Homo sapiens: one gene and its partners. Changing the gene in region 1 together with any one later gene gives a genetic interaction. Each region holds a gene or a part of one and is shown on either strand. Other genes may lie near its edges.

The links.
Region 2: changes in SSTR5 (region 1) and AANAT together harm fitness more than expected from each alone (negative genetic interaction), as found in Homo sapiens cells (one large-scale study listed by BioGRID).
Region 3: changes in SSTR5 (region 1) and CYP11B2 together harm fitness more than expected from each alone (negative genetic interaction), as found in Homo sapiens cells (one large-scale study listed by BioGRID).
Region 4: changes in SSTR5 (region 1) and DBH together harm fitness more than expected from each alone (negative genetic interaction), as found in Homo sapiens cells (one large-scale study listed by BioGRID).

The regions. Positions count from the first base shown.
Region 1 is NC_000016.10:1,069,413-1,077,531, forward strand, and holds the start of SSTR5 (somatostatin receptor type 5), read left to right. Parts: upstream 1-3,334; 5' UTR 3,335-3,410; intron 3,411-8,119.
Region 2 is NC_000017.11:76,464,677-76,473,110, forward strand, and holds AANAT (serotonin N-acetyltransferase), read left to right. Parts: upstream 1-2,926; 5' UTR 2,927-3,051; intron 3,052-3,995; coding exon of another isoform or gene 3,996-4,070; coding exon 4,071-4,233; intron 4,234-4,440; exon of another isoform or gene 4,441-4,496; coding exon 4,497-4,651; intron 4,652-4,988; coding exon 4,989-5,294; 3' UTR 5,295-5,441; downstream 5,442-8,434. Other genes in the region: RHBDF2 (inactive rhomboid protein 2), read right to left, coding at 6,957-7,376, 8,010-8,163, 8,329-8,429. UniProt on the Homo sapiens protein: Controls the night/day rhythm of melatonin production in the pineal gland. Catalyzes the N-acetylation of serotonin into N-acetylserotonin, the penultimate step in the synthesis of melatonin.
Region 3 is NC_000008.11:142,905,923-142,912,451, reverse strand, and holds the end of CYP11B2 (cytochrome P450 11B2, mitochondrial precursor), read left to right. Parts: intron 1-358; coding exon 359-472; 3' UTR 473-1,893; downstream 1,894-6,529. UniProt on the Homo sapiens protein: A cytochrome P450 monooxygenase that catalyzes the biosynthesis of aldosterone, the main mineralocorticoid in the human body responsible for salt and water homeostasis, thus involved in blood pressure regulation, arterial hypertension, and the development of heart failure.
Region 4 is NC_000009.12:133,645,720-133,653,355, forward strand, and holds part of DBH (dopamine beta-hydroxylase precursor), read left to right. Parts: intron 1-2,126; coding exon 2,127-2,293; intron 2,294-5,914; coding exon 5,915-6,058; intron 6,059-6,526; coding exon 6,527-6,565; intron 6,566-7,220; coding exon 7,221-7,280; intron 7,281-7,636. UniProt on the Homo sapiens protein: Catalyzes the hydroxylation of dopamine to noradrenaline (also known as norepinephrine), and is thus vital for regulation of these neurotransmitters.

The DNA of each region.
Region 1 (8,119 bases):
CTGCTGCAGGCCTGAGGCCTCACCTGGGTGGTACAACCTGCTGGCGGAGGAAAGAGCTGCCGTAGCCCAGGTGGGACTGGGGGGTCCCCATGATCCCCCAGGAGGGTGGGGGTCTTGTGTGGGAGTCTCTCACCAGCTCCAGACGCGGTTTCCAGGGCATATTCACTCAAATTCCTCATCCTCACCTTCCCCCAAGTGCAGGCCCGGCAGTGGCTTCTACCTGGGGCTGGGAGGGGGCAGGTCTTTGGTGCTCATGGGACGTCACTCCACACTGGGCACTGGTCCAGGTGCCAGGGGACAGAGTGGGCACCCCAGCGGGTTGTGTGGGTGAGGGCCTCAGCACTGCCCCCGCCTCCCATCCTGAAGGCTGGAGTAGCCTGGGAAGCTGCATTTTAATGAGCACCCCATTTTAACAGAGTGCCCACTGAAGCTCGAGACCACGGCCAGGAGGGTCAGCCAGGGCCCCAGGGGCGGGACTCAGGCCCCTGCAGAAGGCCCCATCCTTGAAACCCTTTGAGGGTCTCCCTGTTTCTGTCTGGACCCCGGGCCACGCTCTGCCCTTGGCAGCTGCAGCCTGCATCTCACTCCAGACGCCTTGGTGGGAAGCCCCTGCTGCCGGGTCCCCAGGCTGGAATCCGCAGGATGTCAGGGCACCCTGTGCTCTTGGGGACGCTCTGCGGTAGCTCCCTGAGGCTCTCAGACACCAGGACACCCTCCCAGCCCAGTCCCAGCAACACATGCCGGCAGCGCCTGCGCCAGTGTTTTCTTCTCCTGTCGGGAGGCTGGTGACCCGCTGTGCTGCCCCGGTGGGGGGCTGATCTCTGACCTCCTGTCTGGCGGGCTGTGCTGCACCAGCCAGGGCCGGGAGGTGCACGTGGACCCGTGTTTATTGGAATCCTGCTGTGATCAGACCCGGGGGCGACGTCGAGACCCACCAGGCCCCGTGGCCTCCTGTGAACATCTGCAGGCTGTTGGGGGCAGCGGTCGACGGAACAAGTGTGGGGCGGCCCGGGCTTCCCGGAGGAAGCGTTGCTTGAGCTGCCAGGGGAGTTACCTGCAGAAAGGGAGGTGGGGTGCACCAGGCAGGGGGGCAGCCAGGGCAAACGCCTGATGCTCAGAGGGTGACAGTGGGCAGCGGGGCCCTTTGGAGGAGCGGAGGGAGGGCCCTGTTGGCTGCAGGGCAGAGTGCCCCACACTCCTCCTGGCCGCCACCCCCAGGGCCCAGCCCAGTCTGGGGACTAAGACGAGAGGCCTCTGGGGTGTTCCAGGTGAGCTGGAGTCAGCCCCTGTTGCTTTTGAATAATTACAGGGGAGTCAGCCCAGTGACCAAGCCTCTGCCTGGTGGGGGAGGGGCACGGGCTTTGTGTCCGGGAGCTGCTGTCCTCAGCCTCAGGAGAGGGGGTGTCACGGGCCGTGGGACAGGTCACAGTTAGGGTGGGGTCCCTGGAGAGGGGTCTGAGGACCGTCCCTGCGGAGTCCATCCAGCCACCATCGGTTGCCATGGCTACTGGCAGCCCCTAATCCTCACGGTGCTGGGTTTGACCTCTGCAGCGTCCCAGGCGGGCATGACCTCATTTGATCCTCCTGGGGTGGGTGGGACTGAGGCCAGGGGACTCCTGCCCAGAACTCAGGGTGGCCGATGTGGGGAGGGGCACTGTGGGGCCGACAGGTCCCCTCTCTGGCCATCAGGCCCCCAGGAGGGCCCAGGTGCTTGGAGGTGGGGGGTGTCCCAGCTTGATGTTGGGGATGTGAGTAGATCCAGCGCCCACCCACCCGCAGGGCTGAGCTCCCACTGGGCGCTGGGCCGTGACTCGCACACCGGACCCTGCACCCCTGGGGCACCCAGTGATTCCAGAACAGTGGGACCCCAGAGGCTTCTCAGGGAGCCCCAGAACATGACAGATGGGGGCCCAGGTGCGAGGCAGTGGGAGCTGGAGGAACACAGCCAGGGGCTGAGGCGAGAACCATGAGGATGGTGGGCAGAGGCTGAGGGGAGGGGCAGCAGATGGAGATGGGGGAGGCGTTAGGGGTCACAAAGGGGGTTCTCAGAGGATCTGCCTTGGGAAGCCACTGCTGTGGGAGGGTGGGAGGGATACAGCCCAGGTACCTCCAGAGAGGATGGAAAGGCTTATGGGGCGGATTCTGGGCAGGGGACCTGGGACCAGCCTGCAGCCTCCCCTGAGGGCCTGGCCATGGCCGCAGGCTGGGGAGGAGGGGAGGGGACCTTGGGGCCAGGTGCCATGGTCCTCTAAGCACTCTTGCTCGATGGTAAACATAACACGCGCTGCTTGCAGAACATGTGGAAACACTGAAACGCTTAAAGGAGAGAACATGGTCCCGGTACCCGGCCTTCAAGGGAGCTGCTGGCGCCTGTTCAACAGGAGCCGACCCCACCTGTGAACAGACGGCAGGCGGCTGCTCCCATGTCCCCTCAGAGAGGGGCCCTCCGAGTTCTGCTGTCACCTGGGGGCGCCTCACTTCATTCAGCCAGTGGCGGGGCTCCCTGGGTCGGCACAGAGTCAGGGGAGGGGGCTGGGGGACCTCCTGGTGGGAAAATGTCCGGTGATCCCCAGCCTCCGCGCTCAGCGGGAGGAGGCGCTCGGTCCCGCTTCTTACAACCAGCGGCGCTCACGGCGGGCCCGGGGATCAGCATCCCGGGAGCTTCTCAGGAATGCAGATTCCCAGGCCCTCACTGCCTGGGGAGTCGGGGGCCCAGCTCGAGGCCCAGGAATCTGCTTTGAGGACCCAGGTGACTCTGCTGCCTGCCTGAGAACCCCACCTTAGGTGAGGGACTAAGGTGTACCCATGGATTCATTTCAGGGGAAATAAAAAGAACAACTTAGCAGGTAGTCTATGCTTAAATATGTGTAGGATCCACAAATAAGGCATGGATAAAACCCGAGTGGAGTGTCCTGGAAATCCCACGACCACGGACCCCCCTCGCTGGGGCTGCCTGCCGCCCCCACCAGCCTCCACACACCCACTTATCTCCACAACCCCAGCCCACCCCTCAGAGACGTCTGCAGAGCCCCTGACCCTCTCCCCTTGAACAAGGACCCTCCACCCTCTTCAGACTCTCGACGAGGGACCCCCTGGACTCCTGCTGGCGGCAGGACCCCCACCCCAAGCTGGGGTCTACCACAGAGCGGACAGCAAGAAAATAGGGTGGGGGCGCAGGCGATCATGGGGTCACTGCCAGTGGGACCAGGGCTGTGGGCGAGTGCGCCAGGGTTCCCGGAGGCCAGACGTGGGACCCGGGAGTCGAGCAGGTGAAGCGGCCCTGCCCCGCCCCCACCAGGCACTGCCCCGCCCCCGCCCCGCCCCGCCCCCTCCCAGCCGGCGCCCGGGAGCCCGGAGCCAGTGCCGCGCGGACATCGGGGCTCCCCCGTTCAGAGGGCGCCGCCGCCCAGGTGAGTGCCGCCCGCCCCTGTCCCCCTCCCGCGCGGGCACCCCCTGCCCTCGGCTGTTATCCCCACTGGGGGTTTCACCCTGTGTGCGCAGCCCCGGCCCGGGGTCCCGCCGTGCGCCCCCAGCCCGCTGCACGCACTGTCCCCCACGCGCCCTCCGCACACCCGCGGGGCTCTCCTGCCGCCGCCGGGGGTCCCTCCCCTCCCGTTCCATCCACTCCCAGCAGCTCCATCCCTCCCATCTCCTGCCCCCACCCCACAACTCACCATCTGCAGGCACCCCGTGTGCCAGGGTCAGCCCAGAAGCCACAGGGGACCCAGATGGCCCCACTCTGCCCACCGCGCCGCTCCCGGCCTCTCCTCCCCACGACGGGGGCCACAGCGGGGCTGGCTCCTGGAGCTGGAGGAGGGTGGGTAAGGCTGGGGAGGGCTCGGAGCCTGGGGCTGGGGGCCGGAAGTGGCACTCAGGCCACAGGGAACCACTGGGCCACGGAAGGAGGGTCCCAGGGTGCCCGTGGCACCCAGCGAGGGGAGGATCCGCAATTTGGGTGCCGGGGGAGGCAACTGGTGCCTGCGCGCAGCTGGGTCGGTGAGCTCCTGGAAGGCAGCAGGCAGAGGCCAGCACCCAGGGGCCCTGTGACCTGGCACTCACAGATGGGTTCCCTGAAACCCAAGACTGGGGAGGCTGGGGTGCCACCCCGCCCGCTGCGAACAGAGCCCCCTCCTGTCCAAGGCACCGCGTGTACCTGGAATCCTCCTGGCGTCTTCACCCTCTCCAGAATAGAGAACACGCCACTGGGGTGTGTGCCCTTGGCCCTCCTCCCCCACCCCAGACCCACCCACGTGCCCGACCCGCTGTCCCCAGCCTGCCAGCCTGCCTGGGGCCCCCTCAAGGGCAAGAGAGCGGAGTGCATGGTGACAGAAGTTGGGGATGGTTCCAGTGAGGCTGAGCCCTTTCTGAAGGCAGTGATTCTGGACTATGTAGGTGGGGACTGCCAGAGCCTCCTGGGCAGAAACTGGTCAACAGCACCAAGGACAGGCGCCTGGCGTTGATTTCCAGAGCAAGACCCAGCGAGGCTGTCAGGAGGTGCCTGGTGTGGAGGGTGCCCCGAGAAGCGTTCGCGGAGCACGCGGGACCCCTGCTGCTGCTGCTCCAGGCTGGCCCACACCTGCCTCAGTTTCCCTCTCCTGGGGAGGGTATGTGCCCCTGGCCACAGGCTGCCGCAGGGACAGGTGGCGTGTATGTGGGGGACAGGCAGGGGTGCCATTGGCTGCACTCACAGAGCTGGACCCCAAGGGGGCAGTGGCCTGCCACCAGGCCACCCTTACGACAGAGGAAACAGGTCAGAACGCTTGTCCTGGGAGCACAGGCCTGGCTCCGGGGCCTTTGGAGGGGCTGGGGCCTGTAGTCTTAGCTAGGGTGTCCCCCGACGTTTGCCCCTGCCCAGCACACAATGGAGGAGCCCGGGTGGGTCTGCAGCCTCTCCAGGGTGCGGCGTGGGCCCCGGCCGTGTGAGCCGCTGCCTCCCCGAGCAGCAGGTTCCGCAGCCCCTCCAAGCTGCAGCCGCATCGCTGCCCCCCATGAAGGAGCCGACTCCCCGACCTCGTGCTGGGTTAGCCTGGAAGGAGTTGGCAGGGTGCAGGCTAGACCTCCACCCAGTCATGGAGGACTTGGTGCTGAGGCCCCGCCTCTGGTCCCAGGCCCCTGTGAAGACTGCCCCCTTCTCCGAGGAGCCCAGCGGCCTCCTGGATGCTGGGGAAATGCTGGGCTGCTTAGGGCAGCTTGTGGGAGCAATCGTTGAGCGCCCAGTGTATGCCAGCCCCGCTGTGGTCCCCGTCGTGGGGAGGTGAGGCCGGGAGCGGTGCTGTGGGCAGACTGGGGCCATCTGGGTCCCCTGTGGCTTCTGGGCTGACCCTGGCACACCGGGCACCTGCAGATGGTGAGTTGTGGGGTGGGGGCAGGAGATGGGAGGGATGGATGCTGCTGGGAGTGGATGCACGCAGCACCCTGCACACAGAAGCTCACTCAGTTTCATCAGCTCAGCAACCCTACAGTTTGCAGGAGTTGCCTATCCCAGAAGCTGGGCTCAGAGAAGCCCGTGACTTACCCCAGACCACGCAGCCCGTGTGGGGAGTGGTCAGGGGCCGGGGTCTCTCCCAGTGCCATGTCAGGCTGAGCAGATCCCTTCGTGGCCGAGGGCTCGGGATCAGAAAGCTCCTACTGCTGGCTCCCCCTCCAGTGAATCCCCCACCCACAAGGGACAGGGCCACCGGGACAATTCCCCGTGAGTGCGTAATTTTATGATTCAGAGGATACTGCTTCCAAATAACGGCTCTTGCAGAATTATGTTCCAAGAGTCAGGTACAGCAATAATGGTCTATTTGTGTCCTTTGCTGCTCTGAAGTCTAACTCCGGAGGTGGAGCACTGGGGGCCGCAGAGCCGGGGACCTGGCAGCCTGTGGAGCCCCTCGCTGGGCTCTGGGCATGGGAGTGGCCTTGGAGGAACCCTGAGGCTCCTCTGAAGCTAAGAAGCTACAAAGACAGGGAGGCTGAGGCAGGAGGATCACTTGAGCACAGGTCGAGGCTGCAGTGAGCTGTGATCACAGCACCACTTCGATCCAGCTCGGGCAACAGAGCAAGACCCCATCTCGAAAACAAAAAATCAAACAGGCATTTGGGAACCACACGTGCTGGGGACCCAGGGCCTGTGTTGGAGATGGACCGGAGCCCGACAGCCGCCCTCTCCCTGTCCCACCATCGGTGGCTCCTCTGTCCCCTCCACCTGGCCTCCTTGCTACGGAGGAATGGGCCGAAAGTGCCTCCCCAGGGAGGGTGCAGCTCAGAGGCCTCTGCACCTGGGCCGCCATCCCACCCACCTGGACTCCCACGCAGCCCGCGGGCTGTCTCCAGACCACTGTCCTTCCGGAATGCATGCTCCACAGGCAGCCAGAGGGAGCCGCAAACATGGCGTGTTGGATTTCCATGCTGGTCCCTGGGGAGCGGAGAGCCACAGGCCTCTTCCCCTCCCTCTCCCTCTCCCTCCCTCCCTCTCTCCCCCTACCCTGTCTCTCTCTCTCCCCCCCCACTCTCTCTCCCTCCCTCTCTCCCCCCACCCTGTCTTTCTCTCTCCCTCCCCACCTCCCCCTCTCTCTCCCTCCCCCTCCTCCCCCTCCCTCTCCCCCCACCTTTTCTCTCTCCCTCCCCACCTCCCCCTCCCTCTCCCTCCCCCCTCACCTCCCCTCCCTTTCCCTCCCTCTCTCCCTCTCTCCTCCCCTCCCCCTCCCTCTCCCTCCCTCTCTCCCTCTCTCCTCCCCGCCTCCCCATCCCTCTCCCTCTCCCTCCTCTCTCTCTCCCCCTACCCTGTTTTCTCTCTCCCTCCCCGCCTCCCCCTCCCTCTCCCCCATACCCTATCTTTCTCTCTCCCTCCCTGCCACCCCCTCCCTCTCCCTCTCCCTCTCCCTCTCCCTCTCCCTCCCTCTCTCCCCACACCCTGTCTTTCTTTCTCCCTCCCCACCTCCCCTCTTCTCCCACCCCGGGGTCTGCGTGGAGGCCACTGCTCCGTCCCTGCTGAGGATTCTGCTGCACTCTGGCTCCTGCCTGTGGGAATCCGTCCTGTCTCTCTGGCTGGTGTCTCTCTGGCTGGCGTCCCTGCCCAGATGCCGCAGCTTGATGGGGATGCTCTTTCATTCCTTTATGCTGCTTGGGACAGGTGCGCTCCCAGAAGGGATCCTGTCGCCAGTTCTGGGGGAGCCCAGCCATGCTCTCCCCCTGCCCACCCCACAGAGCCCTCTCTGGACCTTGTGCCAGCACCCTGCTCCAGTGAATCTTTCAACCCTCTTCCCATTCACCAATTCTCTCTTCAGTGCTGTCCACACTGGAGTTGGTTCTGACCACTTTTGTAGTGTTTTTTTCCACTTAAATGATTGTATTTTTTACATCCAGGATTTGTAATTTTTAAAAATAGATGCCTGTTCATTTTACTCCTTAGACAGAAGCCAAATGTATTTCCTAACATTTTATCCATGCTGTCTCTGTGGATCCTGCACATATTTAAACATAGCCTAAGCGTACCTGTTTGCTCGTTATTTTTATCTCCCTGAGATGGATCCATGGGTCCACTGGCCCTGTTGATTTTCTGAGTCGTATTTCTTAGTGTGTTTGGGCCATGCGAGCTTGGGGATGTTGATTTCTAGGTTTGTTGGGGACAGAGGGCTTTCTCTTTGTGCTGTCAGCCTTGTGTTCTGGGCTCCCCCGTCCCCAGCTCTCCTTTCCTTGTCTACCAGATTTCAGTGGCCTTGGCCCAGCCCCACAGCCCCCAGCCAGGACTGTGGCCTTTCCTGGCAGCTGCTGGGGTCGTCCTGTGCTCTGAGGTGCCTCCAGGGTCAGGGCCGGTCAGCTGAGCAGCCCCAGGGCTCCAGACGGCACATGCTGAGGTCACCACAGCCGGCTCCACCCCTGCTCAGGCCGAGGTCCCCCAGGGAGGGGCTTGTCCCTGGTCTGGATCCTAGGGGACACTTTGATTCTCTGCTGGCCACCCCCAGAGTCACACAGCTCCAGGGTCAACCCAAACATCCGGACTTCCTCCGCCCCACTCGTCAGGGGAGGCATTGATCTTCTTTTTGAGACAGGGTCTTGCTCAGTCACCCAGGCTGGCGTGCAGTGGTGTAATCACAGCTCACTGCAGCCTCAACCTCCTGGGCTCAAATGATCC
Region 2 (8,434 bases), on another chromosome or scaffold:
ACAGGCATGAGCCACGACGTCAAGCCATTTCTGTGGTTTACAGTCATCCAGTTTGTGTATCATCTGTTACAGCACCCCTGGGAAACATACAGATGCCAGCTTCTCCCTGTCTGTATCTATATATTTTTTTTTTTTGAGATAGCAGTTTCACTCTTTTTGCCCAGGCTGGAGTACAATGGCACGATCTTGGCTCACTGCAACCTCTGCTTCCTGGGTTCAAGCAATTCTCCTGCCTCAGCCTCCCAAGTGGCTGGGATTACAAGCGCCCACCACCACACCTGGCTGATTTTTTGTATTTTTAGTAGAGACGGAGTTTCACCATATTGGCCAGGCTGGTCTCGAACTCTTGACCTCAGGTGATCCACCCGCCTCAGCCTCCCAAAGTGCTGGGATTACAGGCATGAGCCACCGTGCCCGGCCTTGCCCATCAGGTTAGGTGTTTATCAGCTGTCTAGAGTGACTGAACAGGTACGACTTGGGGGGCAAAGGACACATTCTCCCCCCCATCCCCAAGATCCACCTGAGAGGCAGTCACCAGAGGCGTTGCCAGCACTCTTAACTGCAATAGCAGGACAAGACTGGGCATCTGATAAACAGTGCAATCGGTGTCCCTGGCGTGAGGATGATCTCGGAGGTGCTTCTTTTTTAGAGCCCACCTGAGGTCAGGATTTTTTTTTTTTTTTTTGAGACAACATCTTGCTCAGTTACCCAGGCTGGAGTGCAGTGGCTCATCACTGCAGCCTGAACCACCTAGGCTCAAGTGATCTTCCCACCTCAGCCTCCCAAGTAGCTGGGGCTACAGGTGTGTGCCACCATGCTTGGCTGATTTTTAAATTTTTTGTAGAGACAGGGGTCTTGCTATGTTGCCCAGGCTGGTCTCAAACTCCTGGGCTCAAGTGATCCTCCTGCCTTGGCCTCCCAAAGTGCTGGGATTACAGGTGTGAGCCACTATGCCCAGCCCCAGGGATCTCCTTCTCTCTGTACCCATCACCCTGTTGGGCCCCTCACCCTCCTTATTTTCCTTCTCATTGGTGGTGGTATGTGGTTTTCTTCCTGTTGACCAGGACAAAGGTCCCAGCGATCACCCTGCCCTCCCCTGTCTCCTCTCCTGTCCCACAAGGGTTTGAACTTCCCAGTTTCACCATGTTTAACATACCGCCTCATCTTTAAAAAAAATTTATTTTTATTTGTATTTTTTTGAGACAGGGTCTCGCTCTGTCGCCCAGGCTGGAGTGCAGTGGCGAGTCACTACAGCCTCGACCTCTCCGGCTCAAGCCATCCTCCCGTCTCTGTCTCCCAAAGTGCTGGGATTACAGCGGTGAGCCACTGTGCCTGGCTTACTGCCTCATCTTGTTCCCTGAGGTTCTAGACCTCTAGGGTGTTGTCCGGAAAGAACAGGGCCATGTGGAAGTCAGCAAAGAGAGAGGCCGATTGAACAGCAGGCTCTTCTCAGGCATCGCCAAGTGACTGATTAGGATTGGCCACCAGGGGGTGCCATGGAGCCACAGTCTATGAAGGGACAGAAGAGGCCTTTTGGGGGACCCTGGAGGTTGAAGGTGGGGATGCCCAGCTGAGGTCTTGGACATGACCACCCCACCAACCAAGCCCAAGGAGGTCTCTGGTCGGTCCTGAGAGGTCTGTTGAGGGTCCCTTCTAGCAGGCAGGTGGGCCTCAGAGTGCAGAGGGGCCCTGGGAGAAGGGGACCCAGAGACAGGAGGAATGCATGTGGTGGGTGGGCGGGGGCATCGGGACGGGGTCACTCCACGGTCAGGGGCTGTGTCCCAAACCGTATGGGTAGGAACAGGAGCTTCCTCTGCGGGGGGGTCGAAAGAGTGCACCTGTGAGGACACTGAAAACCAGCAGGAGAATCATGAAGACAGGAAACAGGAGTCTCATTGTGAGATGAGTGGGTCCCACCAGTGCAGCCGTGGCAGTGCATGTCAGGAGGCTGACCCGGCTTTGCCCCTCCCCCTTCACTTGTTGGATGGCTCTGAGCAGGTTACTGAACCTGTCTGTGCCTCGGTTTCCTTCTCTATAACGTGGTTAATACTCATTTGGCCGGGCTTCCGTGTGGATTAAAGGAGACGCGTATCCAGGGCCCGGCACATAGCAAGTGCTGTAAGCAGTGGCACTCACAGGCTGCCAGGACAGGAAGGACCCTCAGAGGTCCGTCCCAAGCTGTGTGGGTAGGAGCAGAAGCTTCCTCTGCAGGGGGTCAAAAGAGTGCACCTGTGAAATCCAACCTCCAGGACCCCCAGGAGCCCGAGATGGACACAGGATCTGCACTGCTGGGTGGGGCGGAGAGGCAGGTGCTGGCGAGAGAAGAGCTAAGGGGTGCAGGATGGGGTGTGAGCTGGAGGGCAGGGGGTAGTCAGAGCCAACAGGGAGAGGGGCCTGCATCCCGAGGGAATGCCAGCACCAAGTGCCAAGGCCTGGGCAGCCCTGGGAATGGGTGGAGCCAAGGTCAATAGCAGAGAGCTTTGTAGTTGAGATGTTTGGTAGGGCAACCTCCTGAATATTTAAATATTTAATTAAATTAAATATTTAAATAAACTTGAAGTAGAACGTACTTAAAGTGCACAAATTGGTAGCTTGAATTCCCACCCCCTCCCCCCACATAAGAGGTGGGCTTGTCCAAGACTCCGAGGGACAGAGGGAGAATCGCTGGTGCCCAGCCAGTCGGTGACAGAGCAGGGATTAGAGATGGACCCCTGAGGCTTAGCCCCACGCTCTCTTCCCCAAACCCTGGGGCCTCAGTCAGCCTCTGGTAATCCCTTCTGTGCCCAGGGCACCAGAGCTGACGTTTCCCTTCAGCAAGGCAGGGGCCGAGGCTGCCAGAGCCCTGCTGGCGTCATCCTGCCTGGGATAGCTCGAGAGGTGGGGTGGGGGGATTACAAACCTCTAACAGCACCACAGGCTGCCCGGGGAACATCTGCTACTACAGCCTTGCAGCCCGGAGTCCCGGATTTTACTGGTTCCCGTGCCTGCGGACAGGCCCCCAGGGCTAGCGGCTTTGTGGAGGGAACACTGGGTATCCTCTCCACAGTCCAGGTAGGTGGGACCCCCACTCCTGGCTCTCAGCCTTTAGGAACAGGAGCTTCTCTACTTGGAGCTTCTAGACATGGAGGGAAACATGGAAGCCATGGAGTTTATTAAGTGTCTTGGAAGGTGGAGGGAGGGATGGCCTCCTCTAAGAACTGCAAATCTGCAGGGTGTCTTGGGAGACAAGAGTGCCCAGAGGGGAATGTCTGATGAGCTGGATGTGTGGGGCAGGGGGTGTCCTATGCACTCTCCTTGCCTGCTCCTCCCCATTCCCCAGGCCCTCTGCAGCCCCCGGCTCCCTCTAACCTCCCCACCCCCCACCACAAATCCTGCATGTGTGTGGCCCAGTCTGAGGCCATCTGGATAGAAGTAGAGGCTCCCTAAGGGCCCACTTTGATTAAGGGGCTCTCTAGGACCAAGGGCTGAGGCTACCTAAAAAGCTCTCTGCCACAGGATCTTGCACCCAAAGGACCAGAAGCCTCCCTCTGGGGAGGTAAGATAAACCACATGAATGGTGGTGTGGGGGAACCGGGCGCCCACCCACTGCACAGTTGCATTAGACGTGGTCAGTGGAGGGTCACGAGTCCTGCCTCCCCTCCCACCGTGGGCAGCAGGGTTGGGGTGCCCCAGGCTCCACTGAGCCCTGCTCATCCCTGCCACCATCTCTGGGGCTCAGAAGCACCCAGACGGCACCCTGAGACCAATGTCTGCAGGTCTGCAAGGTGGCAAACCTCCAGGGATCCTTCTGGCTGAGAGGGAAAGGTGGGGAGACAGTGCCAATGTTTGCAATGCCTGGTAACAGCCTCGGGGACCAGGTACCTGGGGAATGTGCCCATTGATTTAGGGGCTGTCTCCACCCCAGTTCCTGCTACAAAAGAGGCCAGATACATACTCTGGGGCCTGCCTCCCTGGAGATGAGGATGAGACCCCTGTCCCTTGCTGTTCTCCAACAGGTGCTGGGAGGCCCTCCTTGGCTTAGGAGGACACTTCCAAAGCTGGGGCGCCCCAAGGAGGCACCAGTGGCCAGAATGTCCACGCAGAGCACCCACCCCCTGAAACCTGAGGCCCCACGTCTGCCACCTGGGATCCCCGAGTCCCCGAGCTGTCAGCGGCGCCACACACTCCCTGCCAGTGAGTTTCGCTGCCTCACCCCGGAGGACGCTGTCAGCGCCTTTGAGATCGAGCGTGAAGGTGAGTGGCCCCGCACAGGGTCAGAGGGATGCTCCACTCTGGTCCAGTTATCCTGTGGGGAGGAGACCCTTAGTCTCCTGTCCTTGGAGGCTGGGTCCCAGAGTATCAGACCATGTGTGCGCTCAAGAAAGTGGGGGAAACAGCAGCCCTAACCCCCATTTTCCTGTGGGGAACGGGGCATCTGAGTGGACACTCGGGGTGCAGCAGACAGTGGACGCGAGGCACAGCGACTACCAGTCACCCACCTGAGCCTCCTGCCACAGCCTTCATCTCCGTCTTGGGCGTCTGCCCCCTGTACCTGGATGAGATCCGGCACTTCCTGACCCTATGTCCAGAGCTGTCCCTGGGCTGGTTCGAGGAGGGCTGCCTTGTGGCCTTCATCATCGGCTCGCTCTGGGACAAGGAGAGACTCATGCAGGTGAGGACAGGGCTGCGACGCCCAGCTCCAGGGAGGCCTCTGAAGACAGAGGTCAGCCAGATGGCGGGGAGGGGAGCCCAGGGGCTGGGATTTCTTCCTCCAGAACTGGAGAGATGAGTACAGGCCACAGGCCCCTCCCAGAGCAAGACCTTCTGGGTCTTCAAGTTTTCTCCATGGGGTTGGGGGTATGGCTCCCAATTTGGGGCCCTCCTTTGCTGGGGTGGGTGCCCTGACCACAGGCACCCAGGGGACACCTGCTCCCTGCCTGGGTTGGTGGTTGGGGGGGAGCACGTGTCAGCAGAAGTGACCTGGGATCTCATCCCTTGCTCGCTCCCAGGAGTCACTGACGCTGCACAGGTCTGGGGGCCACATAGCCCACCTGCATGTGCTGGCCGTGCACCGCGCCTTCCGGCAGCAGGGCAGGGGCCCCATCCTGCTGTGGCGCTACCTGCACCACCTGGGCAGCCAGCCGGCCGTGCGCCGGGCCGCGCTCATGTGCGAGGACGCGCTGGTACCCTTCTATGAGAGGTTCAGCTTCCACGCCGTGGGCCCCTGCGCCATCACCGTGGGCTCCCTCACCTTCATGGAGCTCCACTGCTCCCTGCGGGGCCACCCCTTCCTGCGCAGGAACAGCGGCTGCTGAACTGGGCTGCCCACCTGGCTGCCAACATGATCCCCGTCTCTGCCCTGGGCTCCTCTTAGCTCAGCTGAGCATGGAGACAGCAGTTTCCAGAGAGTGGAGAGAGCAGGGCTAAATAAAGAGGAGATAAGGTGGCTTCTCACGGCCTGAGCTGGAGTGGTGTGTCTTGTCTGTCCCCACGAGGCCTCTGGACCTCCTGTGTTCTGAACTCTGTACCTGAGACCGGGCTGGGTTGGTAAGCGGGGACAATGGGAGGTGCTGTGGGGTTCCTGGCTCCTTTCCTCCTGGCAGGTGGGCAAAGGCACCAAGGCGGCATCCTCACAGTAGCCCATTGCTCGGTGGGGGGGGGGGGTGTCCTTATTCTCCCCAGCCTCATGGATGCCGCTTCCCACCCTTAGCCCCTAGGGTGGGGGAGAGTGGGGAGCAGCAGGATGGGGCAGAGGCGGGAGGCCTGTGCTGTAGAGGCAGCTTGGGGCAGGGAAGCTGGTGCAGGGCCCTCTGCCCATGGTAATCAAGTGGTCATACCCGGTGCCTCACTGGCCATCCTCAGTGTGGTGGGTGAGGCACTGGCACAGGGAGTGGACTCGTCCCCGGGTGGGGTGACAGGTCCCCTCAGTGCCATCCCCATCAGGGCAGGCCACCCTGGGCCCAGGCAGCCCCTTCCCTGCTCTGGAGCCAAGGCAGAACAGGTAGGGGTGGGAACCCCAGGGCCCTAAGGATTCAACCCAGCCCTCCCAAGTGGACCCCTGGGGTCTCCCACGTGACCCCAATCTGCTTTCTGGCCCAACTAATTCCCCAAGATGCTCCACAAGTTTTCTGCTGTCCACCGGGCCAAACTGCTGTCTCTGAGCAGCTGATGGCTGACCCCTCACCTCACCCCCAAATCCCAGTTTCATGCTACCTGAGGTCTCCGTTAAAGACAATGTACTGCCATAAAGAATATTATTTAATCCATGAGACATCGTCCGTACAAAGTTAGCGTTACTTTTAAAAATGAAGACCGTGATATAAACTGGTAAAAAACGGGCCTGATGCGCCTCGAGCACTCCCTGGGAGCAGGCCCTGGGGTGGCTCCGCCCAGTGTCGTTCTACCTGAGGTCTACTTGTGTCTCCCCCCTTGTTCTCTGCCCCCAGACCATGGCCAAAGCCTTTCCCACAATGTCCCATCTGAGAGCCTTATGGATGGGCTCACAGGGCAGAGGTAGGAGGAGAAAGAGGAAGGGGCATGGTGGGCACCCAGCCCTGGGGGCAACTGAGGGCACAGCCACGTCCCCAGCAAGGGCACGCTCCAGTAGTAGTGGGGGAGAAGGCACCAGCAGAGGCAGCGCTGAGGACCTGGGAAGAAAAGGACCCTGCCCCAGGAGATGGTCTCAGCAAGGAGCGGGATATTAGGAACTGAGACCCAAGACTCAGAGAGGCAGGTGCCTTGGGTGTGCCTGAGCTTGGGTCAGGATCTCACAGGCCTCACGCCCCAGAAAAACCCCGCCTTAACCAACCATCTCACGCGGAGTCAGCCTCGCCTGGCAGGGGGGCACCCAGGTCCAGAGCCCGGGCCCTGTCTTGGGTCTCTGGCTCTCTGGCACACAGAGAGCGCTCTGCAGAGGGCAGCCCTCGCAGGCAGACCCTGTTCCAGCAGGGCTGAGGGGCAGCCGTGTGGCCCAGCGGTCAGTGCAGCACCTGGTCCAGCTCATACTTCTCGCAGAAGCGGCTGGTGAAGGGGAAGCAGGTGAGGTGCTCGATCCAGGGCCAGTTAATGGGGTAGATGTACAGCCACAGCACGAGGGCGGCGAAGAGGCCGGCAAAGGCCAGCAGTGACACCAGGATGAGTGCCCGCTTGCGGTACTTGTCGCTGGTGCCGAAGGTGATGTAGGGCAGGAAGGCGAAGGCCAGCAGCAGGCCACTGAGGAAGCCGAAGATGTGGGCGATGTTGTCGATCCAGGGCAGGAGGCCACAGATGAACAGGAAGAGCACGATGGCCGAGAGGTTGAGGAAGGCCTTCCAGGGCCTCTCCAGCAGCGGCCAGCTCTGGAAGAGCTCCACGAAGAGGCAGGCGAGGAGGCCGAACTGTGAGCCGGCCGGGCCCACCTGGGGCGGGGCAGGGGAGACGTGGCTTCAGGCATCAGGTGGGTGGCCTGGGCCGGGCCTGCACCCTGGGTCATCCCATCGATCAGCTCCTCCCTGGCAGGCATGGGGACCCCTGAGGCTGAGGGGCAGGGGGTCGGCTGGAGCTGCTGGACCAAAGCTGGGCCTGCTCCGCCCATTCTTTCAGCAAACACTGAGCGCCTACTGTGTACGTGCCTGGTGTGGGTCCGTAGCAATAAGCAAGACAGACAAGCCTGTTCCAGGCCGCACACGGTGGGGAGAGGACGGACACTGAACAAACTAGATCAGTCAGGTGGAACTGATCAGACTGCCGACGGCGCACGGAGGCCATTTCCTACCGCTCGACCTGCAGATACCTAGCATACTGTCAGGCAGTGGGCACGGTTAGGAAGATAAATGAGGCGGTGGAGGGACAGGGTGACTCAAGAGCATCACTGTTCCCTCTCACTGGGATTAAGAGACCAGCCAGTAAGCCCCCAGATTAGCTGTCCCTCCGCTGTGGAGCCCAGTACAGGAGGGGCACCGTGTCCCTCTGGCAGATCCCAGGTGGGTGGAATAGGAGCAGCAGGGCTGGCCCCCTATGTGCGGAAGGGGTCCCATCCTCCACATCCTTACCTCTGCCCGGTATGGGAGAAAGATGGCACTGGCGAGGTTGCCTGTGATGCCACTGAGGATGAAGATGATGGCGATACGGTGCCAGCCGGCCAGCTTCTCCAGGTCCCTCAGGATGGTCATTTGAAAGACCACAGACACGAGGCAGTGCACCACGCTGGGGGAGGGACACACCAGGCAGCGGCCTTCAGCCAGGCACTTCAGGAGCAGTAGGCTTCGGCAGGTTGGGCCGGCCATGCCCTGGCCCAGGAACCTTTCCCCAGGGGTCCGGCTGGGTGGCCATCACAGGGGTCGGGTTCGGGGGCAGTGAGGAGCCTCTTACCCAGCATGTAGGAAGAGAGACAGCCAGAGCCTGTAGAACTGATCTGGGACCTCAGGGTTGAGGAAGGGCAGCAGCCCACACACCTTGTCCAAGCAGTGCACCTGGG
Region 3 (6,529 bases), on another chromosome or scaffold:
GTGATTGACACCTGGGAACAGTGGATGGGGCCTTGGTTGGTTGAGGTCGGCGTGACCAGGGAGGATCTGTGCTGAGCAAGACAGGGTAGGATCTGGGTGAGGCTGCTTCTAAACATTGAAATGGGGACTAGGGGAGTGGGGTGGAGCCTGTACAGAATAATGGGGCTTGGGCAAGACCTGGGCAGGATTCAGTCTGGGCCTGGTCCGTAAGGTGGGGCTGGTCAGAAGTGGGATAGGTTGGGGCCCAGGCTGCTGCTCCCCCTTCAGCATAATTGTTGCACCTGGGACGATGGGAGGAAGCTGCCCCAGGTCCATGGGCTACTGACCAGGCCAGATGGAAACCCAGCCTCTGTCCTAGGTGCTGAAGCACTTCCTGGTGGAGACACTAACTCAAGAGGACATAAAGATGGTCTACAGCTTCATATTGAGGCCTGGCACGTCCCCCCTCCTCACTTTCAGAGCGATTAACTAGTCTTGCATCTGCACCCAGGGTCCCAGCCTGGCCACCAGCTTCCCTCTGCCTGACCCCAGGCCACCTGTCTTCTCTCCCACGTGCACAGCTTCCTGAGTCACCCCTCTGTCCAGCCAGCTCCTGCACAAATGGAACTCCCCAGGGCCTCCAGGACTGGGGCTTGCCAGGCTTGTCAAATAGCAAGGCCAGGGCACAGCTGGAGACGATCTTGCTGGCAGGGCCTGGCCTTGTCCCCAGCTCCACCTGGCCCCTTCTCCAGCAAGCAGTGCCCTCTGGACAGCTTGACTCTACTCCCAGCGCTGGCTCCAGGCTCCTCATGAGGCCATGCAAGGGTGCTGTGATTTTGTCCCTTGCCTTCCTGCCTAGTCTCACATGTCCCTGTCCCTCTCGCCCTGGCCAGGGCCTCTGTGCAGACAGTGTCAGAGTCATTAAGCGGGATCCCAGCATCTCAGAGTCCAGTCAAGTTCCCTCCTGCAGCCTGACCCCAGGCAGCTCGAGCATGCCCTGAGCTCTCTGAAAGTTGTCACCCTGGAATACGATCCTGCAGGGTAGACTAAAAAGGCCCCTGTGGTCACTTATCCTGACACATTTTCAAGTGATACAACTGAGTCTCGAGGGGCGTGTGTTCCCCAGCTGATCATGTCAGCCTCATGCCCCAGGCCTCGTCTTTCATGGACCAGGTCTTGTTCAAGCAGCGAGTGTTGGGTCCTCTGCTTCCTGAGCTGTCCCCTGGAGAAGGTCCCGAGGATGCTGTCAGGAGATGGAAGAGTCATGTGGGGTGGGAACCTGGGGTGTGGTTCCAGAAATGTTTTTGGCAACAGGAGAGACAGGATTGGGCCAACAAGGACTCAGATGAGTTTTATTGACTCATTCCTCTGGTTGATACGGAGCCATGTCATGTGCCACGACCTGGGGTGGGCACAGGGAGGCTGCAGTTCCCTACGTGAACCTGCCTTGGGCCTCATCTGCTCCTAGCCCAGCAGAGAGAGTTGACCCCTCCTGAACTGGCCACTCCCCAGTGCTCCTGTGCAGGGATAGGAAGTGCCCCAGGGTGAGAACGTGCCCAGCCACATCATCTTTATCTCCTGGGATTTTCATTAGGGCAAAGATCTCAGCAGCCAGCTCCTGGTAGCTGATGAGGATCAGAGCGTTTGTTCCCCCATGAAAGGGGAAATACTTAGGTAATCATTCCAGGTGTGTTCAGTAGTTCCAGGACTCAGGGACTCAGGCCAGTCACCCTGTGACCGCAGGTTGCTTTCCCACCCTGGGCAATGCAGTGCAGCATGGGAAAGGAATAAGGGGGCAACAAGGTGCACAGACCTCAGAGATGGCTTCCTTGTTTATGGGGCTCTCACAGATACCCATCCAACTCCTCTAGTCAGCACTAGATCATGGGATCCTAAAATAAACCTTGGAAAAATATTTTAAAGCCTTTTATCTCAAAATTATTATAGATATATTCAAATTTGTTGACATATATATACAGGCAGGTCCCCCCGCCACCCTTCACACAGCCTCCCACCATCAGCAGCTTGCAATTACATAGAACAGTCTTCAAAACAGGAAATGGACAGTGGCACGATTCACTGAGCTTATTTAGAACTTACCAGTGAAATGTGTGCCTGCGAATGGGTGTGTGTGTGTGTGTGTGTGTGTGTGTGTGCCTGCCTAATTCCATGCAACTCTGTCCCACATGTAAATTTTTGTGTTTTTAAATGTAAGCTTAATTATTACTCAGTTGTGGTGAGGCCCACAGGCCAGGAGAAGACTGTGATTGAAGAAATAGTCTGTTACTGACAGCGTGCAGTGGCAGGGCTGTTCTTGCCATCATGACCTCATTGGAAGCATCCGGGTCAATCTGAAGGCAGAGGTTCTAGTTCTTCCTGGGGGAGGAGCCAGTGAAAGCAGGGTAGGCAGGCTTGGGACTGATTGCTTTGCATGATTACCCAGGGCTGCGAGTCACAGGGATTGTCTCTGGCTGTCTGGTGCCTGACTCTGGGGGAATCTGTTCAGGGGAGCTGTGGCCTGGAGTGTGCAACAAGGTGGCTGGCAAGACTTCACAGGAAAGGCATTCACCAGGGGGGACCTTGACCATCTGTAGTAACTGGCCAGCCCTGGTAGGGCATCCTGTCCAGGATGCAAGCCCAGAAAAGCATCAGAAGCACAGAAAATAACAAGGATGATTACATGATTGGCCTGGTGATGCTTGGATGTCATTATTGAGAAAGCACTAGCATTAGTTTCTTTATCCACTTGTTGATTGATGGGTGTTTGGGTTGGTTCCACGTTTTTGCACTTGCAAACTGTGTTGCTATAAACATGCGTGTGCAAGTGTCTTTTTTGTATAATGACTTCTTTTCTTCTGGGTGGATTGCTGGATCAAATGGTAGTTCTACTTTTAGTTCTTTAAGAAATCTCCACACTGTTTTCCATAGTGGCTGTACTAGTTTACATTCCCACCAGTATTTAGAAGTGTTCCTTGTTCATTGCATCCATGCCAACATCTATTTTCTTATTTTTATTTTTTGATTACGACCATTCTTGCAGGAGTAAGGTGGTATCACATTGTGGTTTTGATTTGCATTTGACTGATCATTAGTGATGTTGAGAATGTTTTCATATGTTTGTTGGCTATTTGTTTATCTTCTTTTGAGAACTGTCTATTCATGTCCTTAGCCCACTTTTTGATGGGTTTGTTTGTTTGTTTCTTGCTAATTTGTTTGAGTTGATTGTACATTCTGGATATTAGTCCTTTGTCAGATGTATAGATTGTGAGGCTTTTCTCCCACTCTGTGGGTTGTCTGTTTACTCTGCTGACTGTTCCTTTTGCAGTGCAACAGCTCTTTAGTTTAATTAAGTCCCAGCTATTTATCTTTGTTTTTATTGTATTTGCTTTTGGGTTCTCGGTCATGAAATCCTTGCCTAAGCCAATGTCTAGAAGGGTTTTTCCAATGCTATCTTCTGGAATTTGTATAGTTTCAGGTCTTAGATTTAAGTCCTTGATCCATCTTGAGTTGATTTTTGTGTAAGGTGAAAGATGAGGATCCAGTTTCATTTTCCTACATGTGGCTTGCCAATTATCCCAGCACCATTTGTGGAATAGGATGCCCTTTCCCCACTTTATGTTTTTGTCTGCTTTGTTGAAGGTCAGTTGGCTGTAACTATTTGGGTTTATTTCTGGGTTCTCTATTCTGTTCCTTGGTCTATGTGCCTACTTTTATACCAGTACCATGCTGTTTTGGTGACTATGGCCTTATAGTATAACTTGAAATAAGGTAATGTGATGCCTCCAGATTTGTTCTTTTTGATTAGTCTTGCTTTGGCTATGGGGGCTCTTTTTTGATTCCATACGAGTTTTAGGACTGTTTTTCCTAGTTCTGTGAAGAATGATGGTGGTATTTTGATGGGAATTGCATTGAATTTGTACAACATAATTTCAATACACCTGAGAACTACACATATATTTGAAGAATAATACTTGGTGTGTTGCTTGTGTCAAGGTAGCAGGTTGATCAATTATGTTTTTGGAGCATAACAATTGGTAAATTAGTAAAGTATATGTAAAGATTAGTGGCATTTTTGTGTAACCAAGGAAAAAGAGTGGTTGTGATGGTTAGAGATGCAGCGTAGAAGGTCACGGTAGAATCCTGGACAAGATTAGTAGGAGAAGTTTCTGGAGAGTGAGTGGTCCTTTCCCTGGAGGTAAGATGTTGATATGAGACAAGTACCTTCTGGGGAAAGTGATAATCTCCATTAATTTTCAGAGTGGCACAGAGACCATCAACCTTTTCCAGGTGTCTCTTCGGCACGGGAGTGTAGGGGTGTGGGTGGTTCTGGAGATCAGGGATTTTATAAGGATCATGGGTGTTATACATGTGTTGCGTCTCCCAGAAATTTCTGTGTTGAAATCCTAAGCCCAGGACCTCAGAATATTACTGTATTTGAAGACAGAGTCTTTAAAGAGATAAATAATGTGAAACCAGGTCATTGAGGTAGACCCTAATCCAATATGACAGGTGTCCTTGGAGGAAAAGGGATTAGAACCCAGGCACAAACAGAGGGTGTCTCTGTGATTTGGTCAATAAACCAAGAAGAGAAGCTTGAGCAGAAACCATCCCCCCGAACACCTTCATCTAAGTCTTCTAGCCTCTGGAATTGTGAAAAAACAACTTTCTGTTGTTTAAGCCACCCAGTCCAGGGTACTTTGTTATTGCAGCCAAAGCAAACTAACGTGATAGGCTAAGCAGTCAGCAAGCTGCAGAAACTCATTACAATTGCTAAAACCAAAGAAAGAAAAGCAATCCATGTCCTGTGTCCAGTTCATGCCTTAGTGTAGCTGAACCCAGGCTTGGCTGCTTGCTGCATGAAAACTAAACTCCAGAGACAAGAGTTGGTGGGAGGAAAAGCAGGTGTATTCAACAGCCAGCAACCTGAGGAGACGGCAGACTAGTGTCACCAAGACCATCTCAATACAGTACAAATTTTAGGCTCTTTTTAGTTAAGGGAAAAAGGAAGAGGAGGGAGGTGTGATTGAGAGGTGACCAATGACCACAGACTCCAAGGAGCCAGCAAGGGTCCGAGGAGGCTGAAAACTTCTTTGTCCTTGGTCAGGTCTCAATGCCCCTGTAAATCTTTAACAAAACATAGTTAACTGTTTACATGCTTTTCCTTTGATCTCAGAGTTAGTTTTAAAAAGTACATGACTGCTGTTTTTGTATTATTAACTCAATGCTTTAAAATTATCCTCGCCCATGTGCAGGAATCAGTAAAGGCCCTTTAAACAAAAAATGGAGTGAGTTATGTGCGTTCATTTGTTGCTTCACTTTTAGATTAGGAAAGGCAGTCATGGGCATTGCTGGGGAGTTGAGATTTTAGAGCCTGGGATGAAGTTGTGTCCTGAGTTGGGGGAGAAATCTTCTCCAATGGCAAGTTCTTGAGCTGAGTTGAGGTCCTGCAAGGCAATGTCATCTCCTGGGTGTTCTCCTGGGCCAGAGTGATGCCATCTGGGATGTGCAAGTAACATTTTCTTTTTAGTGGATACCTACTTGAGTTGATGTGGGTCTTGTGTTTATAGCTCTATGGTTTTATAATGAGCCTGAGGCTGAGCTCCAGCATTAATGCTCTCTAGGGCAGGCCCACTAATTTGGTCAATTGCAATGGCCCTGAGCCTAAGTTGCGTGGTTAATGAAGGTCAAGCCATGGGGGCCTTTTGGTCATAAGGCTTTTATCAGCCAAACTCAATGGCACGTGGACCTCAGCACAGCCCCAGCAGGACAAGTGCTGAGGTCCACATTAGGAGGGCTGAGCCTCCAGATTCCATTTAACAGTTTTTTGTTTATATTTTTGGATTTGATGAAGGTTTGGGCTCAAATGGGTCCTGTATCGGATGAGCAGATGCCTGCCCCATGGTACAATCCATGGTTAATGGATCCCAGGAAATAATTCACCCCCCAGTCTGGTGGCCAACCCTCCTGGGATGAGGAGGGTTGGCAAACAAAGATCCAAAATTTACAAAGATGGGGGAGTCAACATAAAAAGTTTTCCTATACATGAAGGTGACACATATGCCCCTTTACAAATAAGAAAGGGAAACTGAAAACTTTTAAAACTTGGTGTGAGATGAGTCAGTCAAGCAGCCTGGAGTAAGAAGAGGTTAGGGCCTGGAACAACAGTATGATCCATGTCAGGGACATGATCCATGTTCTTCAGGGACATGTGACAATATGATCCAGTCACAACCACTCTTTTTCCTTGGTTACACACAAATGCCACTAATCTTTACATATACTTTACTAATTTACCAATTGTTACACAGACTAGGATTTGAAAAAGAGTTGTTTGAGGAGAATATATTTCTATCAATTAAATTAAATTAAATTTGGGGGACATATCAGGGAAATGAAAGTTCTATTGACTGTCTTTTCCAAGACAGTTGGGTACTTTGAGAAGTGATATATGTCCTCTGGTTACTATAAGTAAAACTTGTAAGTTAAGGAGAAGTGTCCTGGTGTTAGTGTATGTGGAGACAGGTGATTTTGTTTTATATTTTGAGTATCT
Region 4 (7,636 bases), on another chromosome or scaffold:
GGAGATGGTTGGGCCCCCTGGAAGTGCCCTGCACCCCAGTCCACAGCCCTGGGTTTGAACCTCAGCTTGGCCACTTCCCAGCCCTGTGGTCTTGTGTGGAGTCTTCAGTTCAGGCTCCATCCTCAGTTTCTTAATCTGTGAAATAGGGCTGATGATTCTCACTGTGCAAAACTTCCATGAAAGGGGTAGGTTATGCTTAGAGCATTTTTGGCACCCAGGGAAGATGTTAGTATCTGTACCACCCTCTTGGTTTGATCAGAAAGGGCAATGCATGTACACTGGTGAGAAGATGGACAGCAGAAAAGCATGAAGAAGATGAAACCACCCCCCAGCTCCCGGCTCCAAGTTTTGAAGTGAGCACTGGTCACCCAGCTATGTGTCTGTCCTGACTGCTTTTCTGGCCCATTAATTTTTTTCTTGTGACTAGAATTTTATATCTTTTTTTTTCATTGTTGTTTGTTTTTTTACTTAAACTTCATCAGAAGCCTCTTCCCTGTGAATTAAAACCCCTTGTCAATTTCACACTCCTTGCCGCCTGACATCCCTTTCCTGTACATAACCCAGGGGGCAGAGCCTCCTGCTGCACAGCCCCTCCAGACCACCCCGCCATGTCCGCCATGTCCACCATGTCCACCATGCATCCGGGGGCATGGGGCCAGGCCTTTAGATCCTCCGCCAACCATGAGCCCAGCCGGTACTCAGAGCCTGGCTGCTGATTCACTAGGCATGGAGTTTCAGGAACGGTGGGGCTACCTGGATGACACCTGGTTGTGAGGATGTTCGAGTGGGTGCCAGCATCCCTGAACCTCTGTTTTTTTGTTTTGAGACGAAATCTCACTCTGTCACCCAGGCTGGAGTGCAATGCACGATCTCAGCTTAATGCAACCTCCGCCTCCCAGGTTCAAGCGATTCTCCTGCCTCAGCCTCCTGAGTAGCTGGGATTATAGGTGCGTGCCACCACACCTGGCTAATTTTTGTATTTTTAGTAGAGACAGGGTTTCGCCATGTTGGTCAGGCTGGTCTCGAACTCCCAACCTCAGGTGATCCACACACCTCGGCCTCCCAAAGTGCTGGGATTACAAGGCGTGAGCCACCGTGCCCGGCCCCCTGGACCTCTGACCATCAGTTTCATGTGACCACTGGGAGGCTGGCCCAGGGAGCTTCAGGGACTCTCCAATTAGCAAACGGCAAGGAGAACTAACAGGTGTGGCCACACCATAATCAGGAGACACAGTCTCCGTGACTCGAAGAAGCACCATGTTATTCCTTTGGAAGAGGCCCTTGAGTGTGGGCTGAGGCTCATAAAGGGACAGCAAGTCATCTGAGAGCACACAGCACGCTGTTGACCAAGCAGGACCTGGCCTGTGCATGAACGGGGGCTAGACCTGCAACGCTGGCCCTCCTCCTGGGGGGCCACATTCTCACTCAAATTGTTCCTGAGATGTCAGCTTGGTAGGTGGGTTCCTTGGGTCTGCAGGACATAAATCAAAGTAGTAAAAGTGGGGGCTGCTGGGAGGATGTGCTCCTTGAATGCTTCTTGTTAACCTCAACACAGAGATACACTCACACTTGCCCAGCTTTGACGCAGGGCCAGGGCTCTTCTGTGCCATCGGCAGATGGGAGTTCCATGCCCTCTTCTTTGCCCAGACCACACCCTGCAGGTTGTCACCGTCTTGCAGGCTGATTTCCAGCTTAGGTTCCTTTGAACGTGGAAGAAGAACATCAAAGCACTTATGAAACAATCTGAGCACAGAACTCAAGTTGTTTACGAGTTTCCGTCTATCAGCAGCATCTCACCCGCACCTGATTCCATGGAGGCTTTAAGTGGCTCACGTTGATCACATCTTTCCATAGCATTCAACTAGTTTTCATAGAAACAGCAGCTCTTTCTTCCCAGTGAGTGTAGCCTGTTTGCGTTAATTGATCTTGCGAGCTGCCTGGCATCCACAGGTGTGGAAACAAAGACAGCCAGCTCTTGGTCTGCCTAGCAGGTGGGAGCAGATGGGGGGTGACCGGCCCTGCCTCCTGGCTGAGGGTGGCTGGGGTCATAGGGATAATCTGTCCGCAGGGGGAAGTGAGAGGGCCTCCACTTACCGCTCACCTCCATCCATCCCACCTTCTCCCAGGACGAAACGACTCCTCAGGCATCCGCTTGTACTACACAGCCAAGCTGCGGCGCTTCAACGCGGGGATCATGGAGCTGGGACTGGTGTACACGCCAGTGATGGCCATTCCACCACGGGAGACCGCCTTCATCCTCACTGGCTACTGCACGGACAAGTGCACCCAGCTGGTGAGTGGGGCTGGGCCCGGCACTGCACCCTCCCTCCTCCCGCGTCCCTCAGTGGAGGCCTGGCAGGTCGTGGCCCACGAAGGGTGGCAGGCACAGCTTTGGTTTCCCCTGACCCTGAATCCCCCTGCGGTCCTCCCTCTTTTCTGTATGCAAGGGAACCCTGCTGCTGAGAGGCCATTTGTGTGTGTATGCACCTCCCTCTCCAGCAATAACCATGGCTCCCACTAGTCCACACCCACGTGCCAGGCTTCCACGAGCTGCATTTTAAAATATGCCTTCATTATGTAAGCAACACACACATGCACTTGCCACTCACAAGCGCAGGCACTGCAGCTAAAGAGAACGCTCCCCTCATCCGCTGCCGCCTCCCCCTGAGATAGCCACTTCTTGGCTCTTTGTGTCCTTCCAGACCTTTTTCCTGTATATTTCAGGAAGCTCTTGCAGGTGTTAGAAACCTTTTGTGTTTTTAAAAAGTTGTATTGAATAGTTAACAAATTTTTCAACAAATGGGAGGCATTTTTCTGGTGATTTGCCTTTTTATTGCTGCATAGTATTCCACAGGATGGGGTTTTCACCACGCACCTGAGCAGGGCAGGACTAGGTGAGGCAGTGAAGTGCCGGGTACAGGATCTCAGGGAGCACCCGTCCTCAGGGCTATGCACGCTGGGTGGAGGCACAGGTTGGCGCTTAGACTGGCGCCAACAGCAGGTCCTGTCCTTGGCTTCTGGTGAGTTCAGAGAGTGACTACTAAAATCTCCTCCTTTGCTTGCCCTATCTTGGTCCAAGCCTGTGCTGAACTGTCTCCCTATCAATCAGTGTCTAGGCTGTTCTCAACTTTTCACCAATAGAAAGAAGCTTCTGGGAAATCCTTGTCCATGTAGGAAACCATTTTCTCATGTAGATTTCTAGGCATGAAATTGCTGCTCAGAGATGTGAGTGTTCCCTTGAGTAAATCTTGCAAAATGCCCCTCAGAAAGCCCATCTTCTGCTCCCTCCCACACATAGGACGAGAGGGTGCCCGGTTTTACTGACCCACTGGATTATTAATATTGTAAATATTTTCTGTCATTTGGGAGGAAGACATGTCAGTGTTGTTTAACTTGAATTTTCTATTTGTGGACTTGAGGATCTTTTCCTCTGCCTCTTGGCCATTTGTTCCTGTTTTCTGTTCATTCCTATGCTCGGTTTTTCCAGTAGGTGGTTTGTTTTTCTTACTGTTGGTTTCTAGGAGTTCTTCTTATATGATGGATGTTATTTCATAGTTTGTGTATATGTTACAAACATTTCCTCCTGTGCGGTAGCTTTACTTCTCACAGTGACCTGCAAAGTAAGTGTTGACGTACCCATTTCACAGATGGGGAGACTGAGGCTTGCTGGGATCACACTGCCAGCAGTCACGCAGAGTGAAGATTCAAATACCAGTCTGTCTGACTTTGAAAGCTGTGGCCGTGACAGCAGATTTCGTTGTAATGAGGTTTAGAGTGGATTTTCCTTCCTAGTAAATGGGTCGATTGGGATTTGTTCTTCATGTGGGTGAGCCCCCAGAGCATCCCAGTCTTCCAAGCAAAGGTTCCTCAAGGCTGAAGGGAGACGGAGCTCTCAGCCGGCATGGCACCCATTGTCTCCGGCAGGAAATCAGCTCCTTTTGTCCCAGACGGGGGTGGACACTCTCTCCCACTTCCCTAAAGCGCCCACTGGTGAAGCGTGGGCCCATGTAAAAGGCACCTTGGCCAGGGCTCATGGGGAAGAGCGGCTTCCGGCCAGGCAGCACTCACTGCCCCTTGCAGGGCCTTGGGGCCTTCGACCCCGCTGACCGCTGACTGTGAGAACGCCTCTCTCCAGCCTCAGGAATACAGACCCGCCTCCCCTTGCCAGAGTCCTCCACTACCTTAAGTAACAGAATGAGAATGTTCAGTCTTGTCTCTCCTTTGGCAGATAAAAGAGGGGCACAAATTCTGCAGCCAAAATCTGGCCTAGTCTAGCTATCCCAGTGAAATAGGCCAAGACAAGAGTGCTGCTTTGGACCAGAGTGCCCAGAAGAGCATAGTCCTCCCTCCACCTGGCCGACACCTGGCATCTCTGGGCCAGGGTCGGCCTCTGGGGGCCAAAGGGGCATTGGGACCCTTTGGGCTCCCAGGCCTGGCACACAGTGGCCTCTCAAGCCATTGCAAGGGACACAAAGCTATAGGCGACGGCAAGGTCAGGGCGGCCGCTGCTTGGGAGCGAGAGGGAAGGAGCAAAAGTGAGTCCTAAAAAGCTCGGCCATCTGGGACCTTCAGGGATGGGGCTGTCGGGACCTTGAGCTCTGGGACCTGCTGACTGCATGAACAAACTGGGCAGAGCCTGGCAGCGGGTGGGCAAAAGGACAACTGACTCACAAAGAAAATGCTCGATTTCAGGAAAGACGTGTTCTTTTCTTTCCTTCTTTCCTTCTTTTCTTTCCTTTCTTTTCTTTTTCTTTCTTTTTCTTTTTCTTTCTTTTCTTTCCTTTCTTTCTTTCCTTCCTTCCTTCCTTCTCTTTTCTTTCTTCCTTCCTTTCTTTTTTTTTTTTTTTGATGGAGTTTCGCTCCTGTTGCCCAGGCTGCAGTGCAATGGCACAATCTTGGCTCACTGCAACCTCTGCCTCCCGGGTTCAAGTGATTCTCCTGTCTCAGCCTCCTGAGTAGCTGGGATTACAGGCACGTGCCACCATGCCCGGCCAATTTTTGTATTTTTAGTAGAGGCGGGGTTTTACCATGTTGGCCAGACTATTCTCAAACTCCTTACCTCAAATGATCCATGTGCCTCAGCCTCCCAAAGTGCTGGGATTACAAGCATGAGCCACCATGCCCAGCCATGGAAATGCATTTTCTATCTAAAAAAAGTTAGCATTAGGTTAGAGAAAACTTTCGTTCTCTGGAAGATTCTCTCATGCCCCAGTGATGGCATAAGACCTCTTGAGATGAGGGCTGCCATCTTTTCTGTGAGGCCGGCCTGCAGCCTCAGAGTGTCCAGCTGCAGCACCCCATGGTCACATCCATCTTGGTCCTGGATGACCACCTTCCAGTTGTAGCTACAGCTCCCAGCTGTAGCACGGGGTGATGCTGAGCACAGGGAGAATGCAGCCTTGGCTGCTTTGAAGCTGAAAGGAAGCCACAACGCAGGGCAGCTGAAGGTCCTGCTCGGCCCACCACGTAGGGGACCTGCCAAGTACCACCTTCTGCCACTTGCTTTTCCCTGGACAGCAAGCTCTTCAGCACAGAGGCCACGCGCTGCTCAGCTTGGTGGCTTTGCCACACCCTGTCCACGGGAGGCTCGCCTTAAAGGCCTGTTGACTGAGTGAAGATGAACCTGTCAGGCTTCAGGGGCTCAGGAGAGGATGAAGGACTCGGAAAGAAAGTCGCTCCTGAGTGGGACTAGGGGCTGCTTCTTTGGGAGCTGGGGGCTGTTGCGGCCCCCTCGCTCTTCCCCGTGAGGTTTCTGATGGTGGCTCTAACCTGGCCGGGGAGAAAGACCTAGAAAATGCAAGTGTTCCAGGGAAGCAAACTGCCCAGGGTGGCTGCTCCCTACCGGGTCCTGGCCATGGACGGGAGGGTCCCCTCGGGGGTCAGGCCCTGACACTGCAGCCCCCCGACCCCACAGGCACTGCCTCCCTCCGGGATCCACATCTTCGCCTCTCAGCTCCACACACACCTGACTGGGAGAAAGGTGGTCACAGTGCTGGTCCGGGACGGCCGGGAGTGGGAGATCGTGAACCAGGACAATCACTACAGCCCTCACTTCCAGGTAGGAACCTGCACCCCACCCCTGCCCCGCCCCCACACCCTGCCACCACACGACCTCCTGGGTCTACTGTTTCCTGACACCATAGGGATGGCTCCAGGCTGGCTTCTTTTTCCTGGGCCAGCCCCACCCGCCCCCCACCCATGTGGCCTGTGCTCCCCACTTGGGTGTCTGGTGTCTGATCGTAGGGAGGCCTCTGGCACATGGCAGATGGTGGTGGGATTCGGGAGACCCAGGCGGCCCTCTGGGAACATCAATCTTGGTCTTGGATAACCACCTTCTGGTTTGAATCTAATGCCCTCCCTGGCCAGAAGCCACACTTAGCGGGCTCTGGCTTCCACTGTAGAGGCTGGGGCAAAATGGACACCCCCAGAGGTCAGGGAGGCCTGAGGGAGGACACAGTGGCCGGGGGTCTGGTCTGCAGCTCTCTGAGGTCTCCTCTCCCCCACCCCTCGGCTCTGCCTGCCCCAGGAGATCCGCATGTTGAAGAAGGTCGTGTCGGTCCATCCGGTGAGTGCCCAGCGGGAAGGCTGTCCCACTCACTGCCACCAGCTGGGGTGGCTGAGAGGGCTGGGGGTGCCACCAGAAGGAGAGGGACACAGAAAGTGATAGGGGGAGGGAGAGCCATCCAGGGCAGGGGGAGGGTGCCTGTGGGTGGCTCTGGGCTGGGCTACCTCATGGGGAGACTCACTCAGGAGTTCATGGAGAGACGTTGGAAAGAGTGGAGCAGACAGGACACTCCCAGGGGACGCGTGTCCTCAGTCTGATGGGCCGACCACAAACCCGAGAGTGTTTGGGGGAGATGAGGGCACTAAGGCAGGCAGTGGAGCCCTGATCCCACAGAGGGCCAAGCCCAGGCCTCGGTGGGGACTTGCCCAAGTCCTTTGAGATGTGTCATGGCCCACCAGCTGCACCCCCACTGGCCTGGGCCCTGGCCCTGTTGTGACCCACTGGGTCACAGGAGCTGATGGTTTATAACTTGCTCGGGAACACTCAGCCTGTGACCTTCGCACATGAATCTGCTGGGCTCCTTGTAGTGGACGACAGGGACTGTACCCCAGAGGTGCCGTGGCATGCACAGTGGCGTGGTCCTATGGGGGCGAGGCCTCCAGCACCTGCCAACGCCAGGTGGCAGGTGCTGATGGTCACATTGGCTTTTCCTCAGGGAGATGTGCTCATCACCTCCTGCACGTACAACACAGAAGACCGGGAGCTGGCCACAGTGGTAAGTCACCCCCGCTTCCCCCTGCACCTGCCCAGGGCGAGTGTTCAGCCTGAGCCATCTGAGGAAGGATGACAGGTCTTGACTCCTCACTTAGGGCATGGGCTCGTCCCCTCAATAAGCCAGTCGTTCTCAGCTCCCTGAACCACAGTGGCAGCATCACCAGGGAGCTTGGGATGAATGCAACCTCCTGGGTGCCACCCCAGGCCCACTGAGTCAGAGACACAGGCGGTGGCATCGGGCAATCCATGTTTTAACAAGCTCCCAGCGGATGTTGACCCCTGCTCAAGGTTGAGAAGCACTCACACCAAGAAGCTTCTCAGCACCCGGGGCTGGTGTGGGGAGAAGCTGTAGGACAA